2 separate regions of the Homo sapiens genome follow, and region 1 is reported to be linked to region 2. The links are microRNA targets in miRTarBase. Many come from high-throughput screens and were not tested one by one. Region 2 holds a microRNA gene; the other region holds the end of a gene's coding sequence.
Evidence for each region. The annotated mature microRNA hsa-miR-1288-5p reads GCAGAUCAGGACUGUAACUCACC and lies in region 2 at 1,036-1,058, shown strand. An mRNA with a match to its seed (bases 2 to 7 or 8) in the 3' UTR can be bound and repressed. Matches are read on the target gene's strand: a 7mer-m8 pairs with bases 2 to 8, a 7mer-A1 pairs with bases 2 to 7 and ends in A, and an 8mer does both.

Region 1 (3,000 bases), not on the chromosome of region 2:
TCCGACCCGAGCGACACAAAGATCACTTCTGGGACCCACCCAGGGAGACTGTTGTTACGAGGGTGGATGGTGACCTGGTTTCCCTCAATGCTGCCACCTCCCTTCTAAAACACACTGACTTGCTAAGAAAAGGGGGGACTGACTCCAACAAAGGACAGACCCGACCCCTATCGTGCCTATGCAATTCAGAAAACGGAGAATTCGGAGGCTCCAGCAAGCAGTTTATTGGGAGTTGAGTTCACCTTGCCTTGTGATGTGAAGCAAGGTAGTTCCATGGCTTGTGAACCCTGACACCAGCACCTCCCATACACAACAGAGCTGGAGCGCTGCAGGGTGGGTCCTTTTCCAAGAAGAGCTAAGTGCTAGTCTTAGCGGGAGGCTAGGAAACCAGTCCTGGAGCAGGATGCATGTGACATGCACTGACGTGAGAAGGCCGGAGCATCATCAGTGCATATGCCGCTGAATATCTCAGGGTAGAATGTGCCAGAAAACAGGGAAAGCAAGTTAGGGGAGGTAAGAATTCTGAGTGTCCTACAGCTAAGACATGGCAGAGTGTGTCTGTGACTCCACTAGCAGTTTTGAGATTATTCTGACTGTGGTGGTTGGTGCAGGGCTGGTAACCGCAGGAGAGTGGATGCTGTGTGGTCAAGGGGTGTGTGTCCCATGATACAGGCTCTGCTTCTTCAGTCTCTCACCTCAGAGCCACCTGCGGTTGCCACAGAGAAATTCAGATGTGAATGTTTAAACAAGTGTCCAAAGTGTAGGTTTGAGATGGGAAATGGAGCTGGAGATGACCTCAAAACAGCCCTGGAATAATGCAATGCTGACAATGTCTGTGAATTAGGATGTGCATAGGCAGATCCCACTTGGGGAAAAACTGTAAGATGCGAACCTTTGTCTTAGAAGTACAGCATTCCCACAGTCTGACCCGAGGACACTGATGGAAACTTAAAAGGCAGATTCTGGGAGTCTTCTCACTTCTCTCCAGTCATGTGTGAGAGCTGAGGGCAGGCACTGCCCTAGAGGGTGTTTCCTAACTTCTGACTGGATGCCACAAAAGGCCTGCTGGGGCCCAAGTCCTTCTTCCCCATTCCTTTAATTCTTCCTACGAAGAATCTCGACAATGGTTGCAGATGTCATTGAAGATGTTCCCATATTGCTTACATTTAAGAAGGTGGCTCTCCAGTGTGGGTGGTTTCATGGTTTTAAAATGAACTGGAGGCCGGGCGCGGTGGCTCACGCCTATAATCCCAGCACTTTGGGAGGCCGAGGAGGGCGGATCACGAGGTCAGGAGATCAAGACTATCCTGGCTAACACGGTGAAACCCCGTCTCCACTAAAAATACAAAAAATGAGCCGGGCGTGGTGGCGGGCGCCTGTAGTCCCAGCTACTCGGGAGGCTGAGGCAGGAGAATGGCGTGAACCCAGGAGGCGGAGCTTGCAGTGAGCTGAGATCGCGCCACTGCACTCCAGCCTGGGCAAGGACTCCGTCTCAAAAAAAAAAAAAAAGAACTGGGGGCCGGGTGTGGTGGCTCACGCCTGTAATCCCAGCACTTTGGGAGGCCAAGGCAGGTGGATTACCTGAGGTCAGGAGTTCAAGACCAGCCTGGCCAACATGGTGAAACCCCGTCTCTACTAAAAATATAAAAATTAGTTGGGCGTGGTGGCATGTGCCTGTAATGCCAGCTACTAGGGGGCCTGAGGCAGGATTGCTTTGACCTGGGAGGCAGAGGTTGCGCCACTTTCACTCCAGCCTAGGCAACAGAGTAAGACTCCAGCTCAAAAAAAAAAAAAAAAAAAAGTAAAACGAACAATTTGGGAGGCCAAGGTGGGTGGATCATTTGAGGTCAAGAGTTTAAGATCAGCCTGGTCAACATGGTGAAACACTGTCTCTACTAAAAATATAAAAATTAGCTGGGCATGGTGGTGGGCACTTGTAATCCCAGCTACTTGGAAGGCTGAGGCAGAAGAATTGCTTGAACCCAGAGGTTACAGTGAGCCAGGATCACACCACTGCACTCCAGCCTGGGGCAACAGAGTGAGACACCATCTTGGGGTGCGGCGGGGAAAAAAAGGTTGGGTGCTGTGGCTCACACCTGTAATCCCAGCACTTTGGGAGGCCGAGGCAGGCAGATCACCTGAGGTCAGGAGTTTGAGACCAGCCTGACCAACATGGAGAAACCCCATCTCTACTAAAATTACAAAATTAGCCAGGCGTGGTGGCGCATGCCTGTAATCCCAGCTTCTTGGGAGGCTGCGGCAGGAGAATTGCTTGAATCCGGGAGGCGGAGGTTGCGGTGAGCCGCGATCGCACCACTGCACTCCAGCCTGGGCAACAAGAGCAAAATTACATCTCAACAAAAACAAAAACAAAAAACAAACCCCACAAAAGATGGGATGGATATAGAATTTTCTTTATAGTTTCTCTCCAGTATATATTCTCAGGTGTCTTTAAAAGATTACGTGAAGTGAAGGCTTTCCTACACTCCATACATTCGTAGCTTTTCTGTCCATGGAGTCCATTCACATATCTGCAATCCCGCAGGAGAGTGCAAGTTCCTCCCCCATTTGTTAAATATTTCATTGCCGCATGAGTCACGTCTTCAAAGGGAATTAGGACAACTGAAGGCTTAATCACACCGTTTACATTCCTTGAATTTCTCTCCAGCGTAAGTACTCTCATACATCCAAAAGGAACTAATACAACTGACAGCATTACCACACTTTACTTTCTTAGGGCTTCTGTCTACTATGAGTCCTTTCGTGCACGTGCAAAGACTTTGAGTAACTGAAGGCTTTACCACATTGTCTACACTGAAAGGGTCTTTCTCCAGTATGAATTCTTTTGTGTACTTTCAGGGAATTTAAACAAGTGAAAGCTTTGCCACACTGCTTACACTCACATGGTTTCACTCCAGTGTGACTTCTTTCGTGCCTTCGAAGGTGACTGAAGTAAATGAAGACCCGACCACACTGTTTGCATTCATAGGGTTTCTCTCT
Region 2 (3,388 bases):
ATGCCTGGCTCACTAGGTGTTTTTAAAAGGAAAAAAAATCTCACTTACTTTGAGAAGACTCTTGTGCTTTCACATGTATAAATATAAGCACTAAAATCACATGAACATACATTCATTTGAAGTTTTCAAGGAAATAATCATGAAATGTTTCAGATTATTATTTAAGTAAAAAATTTTTCTAGGAATGCATGGACCCCTGAGAATTTAGCCACAGACTCTCAGGGATTTGTGGACCTCAATTGGAAAACATTGCTGTAGAACAGTAGTTCATTTTGAACTCATTTTTGCAAGCTAAATTTTGACATGTTTTAGATGCTAATTCTAGGAATGTTCTCCCTTTTCTAAGAAAAGTCCAAGCATTTTTTACCTGCTCTAAAAGAATATCAACGGCTTTTATGTTTCAGAGACTGGATGCAAGAGATTGTTTAACAAATCCCATCCCATCCCTGAGAATGTGTCTAGGCATTTGCTCTTTGCAAAGCCAGATGCAACATTCATAATAACTAAGGCTATCTTCTGGCCAGCACTGCAAGTGTATCTTTTGTCTACATTCTTAAGTAACCACATCAAATAGCATCAACCCACTTGGAAATAATTTTGAAGTGATTTGGATCTCTCTTGTATATTTTCCCTATAAATCCCTAGCCTGGTAGGCGTGTATATTTTCTGCTGCAATATTTAATGCTTAGTTCCTTGCCTACATCTAAGAAATATTAATTTTAGAAGGAATTGGATACTGATATTGGCAAATTTTTATGAGACTGGCTAAAGGAGAAAGAAGAAGGGGACCTGTGATAGAATCTTCCATGACAAGGAGGAAATACTGGCCTCAGTCTCCTGCAGAAGCAGGAGCTCTGGTACACAGGTGGGGTGCCCACTGGTACAGCTCCCATCTGACATGAAGCAGGCAAGCCAAAGGGGAGCAAGAGCAATGCAACCTGTAAGACCCATCCTCAGACATTCTGCTATTGCCCCCAGACAATGGAAGGGGGGCGACAGCTGTCCATGGGGGCACTGCTAAGAGGGTGTTGATCAGCAGATCAGGACTGTAACTCACCATAGTGGTGGACTGCCCTGATCTGGAGACCACTGCCTTTCGAGAATAATTCACCCTACAGAAGCTATCTGAGCATCACCAGACAGGGTCTTCCTGGGAATTAGCACATATCCCAAATTTCCTTCAGCTTTGCCTGCCCACAGTCCCCTGAAAGCCCTCCCTTTTTCTGGGTGTGAGAGGAATGGCTGGGCATCCCTTGGCTTATCCTCCTTCTTGCCCACCATAGCCAGCATCTCAGAGTGAACATGCACGAGGGAGGTAGAAAGACTCCATATCCTTGTTCTTTACAACTTAGAAAAGCCTAAGTTATAGGAGAGAGATAGCACAATGGAATGCTGAATTAGAGGTAAATAATTGGTCTGTTTTTTTTTCACCAGTCTAGTTACTACTATTATGTAAAATATCTAATTTTACATACCCTAAACACCCATACCCAAACACCTTGACAAAGGAATCATTTTACCTCCCAAACATAGTCAGTGTTGATTTCACAAAATATCCCTAGAATTACTCTTTCTGAGGCTAACAGGACTACTTAGATGGTTCCTAAAGTCCCTTCTAACTCCTGCATTCTCTGGTTAATGAATCAGCATTAGTCATGTGGAAGGAAGGTATCCTCCTCAAACTCTTTTTAAGAATGATCTCAAGGAATCCAGAGTGCTCATTAAGTTGGTGAAAGAGTCAGTGCAGAATGCAGCTCATACATATATCCTGATGTGATGTTGGCACCTCTCAAGAAGCTGGGAAAGATGTCCAGGCTGGTCATAGGACTCAGCCCCTATTATGGGTCCAGCAGCCAGTAATAGTAAGCAATGTCTACTTCAAAAGATATCTCTGGCCAGGTGCAGTGGCTCAATCCCAGCACTTTGGGAAGCTGAAGCGGGAGCATCACTTGAGCCCAGGAGTACAAGACCAGCCTGGGCAACATGGCGAGACCCCATGTCTACCAAAAAAGAATTTTTTTTTTTTTTTAGACAGATTCTCACTCTGTTGCCCAGGTTGGAGTGCAATGGCATGATCTTGGCTCACTGCAACTTCTGCCTCCTGGGTTTAAGCGATTCTCCTGCCTCAGCCTCCCGAGTAGCTGGGATTACAGTCACACATCACCATGCCCAGCTAATTTTTGTATTTTTAGTAGAGGTGGGATTTCACCATGTTGGCCAGGATGGTGTCTAACTTCTGACCTCAGGTGATCTGCCAGTCTCAGCCTCCCAAAGTGCTGGGATTACAGGCGTGAGCCACTGTGCCTGGCCAAAACAATTGTTTTAATTAGCTGGCCGTGGTTGTGCATGCCTGTAGTCCCAGCTACTCAAGAGGCTGAGGAAGGAGGATTGCCTGATCCTAGGAGGTTGAGGCTGCAGTGAGCTGTGTTTGCACCACTGCACTCCAGCCTGGATGACAGAGCAAGACCCTATTTCAAAAAAAAAAAGATATTTCTGAGGAGCCATGCTCATTCAAGACTCACTGCTCTTAGAAGAGGTGTTAATCTGGCCAGGTGCCGTGGCTCACACCTGTAATCTGAGCACTTTGGGAGGGTGAGGTGGGAGGATCATCTGAGACCTGGAGTTCAAGGTCAGCCTAAGCAACAGACTGAGACCCTGTCTCTTAAAAAAAATAAGAGAGAGATGTTAATCTATATTAAACAATTGAATAGTGTGAAGATTTTGTAAAACTTTTTAAATCACCGATTATACAAAAGCTCTTATTGAATTATTAAGGAGTTAGCAATTACTATTAATGCTGTTGAATATGAGTAAGAACCCACTTAACTTCAATCAGAATCCATCGATCAAGCTTAAAGCCTTATCTCATAGTTCCCTTCCTGGTCTGTCAGCATTGCCTCATAGAGAGGGAAATACATCCCGCATCTGCCTCATCATGAACTTGGGTGGCCACCAGGATATTGCTCATGAAAGCTGCTTTTCTTTCTTTTTTTTTGTTTTGAGACGGAGTTTCACTCTTGTTGCCCAGGTTGGAGTGCAACGGTGCGATCTCGGCTCACTGCAACCTCCGCTTCCCAGGTTCAAGCGATTCTCCTGCCTCAGCCTCCTGAGTAGCCGGGATTACAGGCGCCCGCCACCACACCCAGGTAATTTTTTGCATTTTTAGTAGAGACGTAGTCTCACCATGTTGGCCAGGCTGGTCTTGAACTCCTGACCTCAGGTGATCTACCCGCCTTGGCCTCCCAAAGTGCTGGGATTACAGGCATCAGCCACTGCGCCTAGCCCGAAAGTTGCTTTTATAAACAGGTTCAAGGCCGGGAAATCCATTCTCCTCCACCTCCCAAAGTGCTGGGATTACAGATGTGAGCCACCGCACCCAGCCAGTTCA

Region 1: miRTarBase lists ZNF490 as a target of hsa-miR-1288-5p. Seed matches in the 3' UTR shown: 7mer-m8 at 2,131-2,137.

The regions. Positions count from the first base shown.
Region 1 is chr19:12,577,752-12,580,751 of GRCh38, forward strand. It overlaps ZNF490 (zinc finger protein 490), which reads right to left. Exons shown (of 5, transcript NM_020714.3): 5 at 1-3,000. The coding sequence ends at 2,734. Among named protein-coding and RNA genes, the nearest start is that of LINC02926, 28 kb to the left of the region's middle. RefSeq lists an enhancer at 2,173-3,000.
Region 2 is chr17:16,280,993-16,284,380 of GRCh38, forward strand. MIR1288 (microRNA 1288) reads left to right here and starts at 1,022; the gene lies at 1,022-1,096. The region is part of intron 2 of PIGL (phosphatidylinositol glycan anchor biosynthesis class L); the gene reads left to right.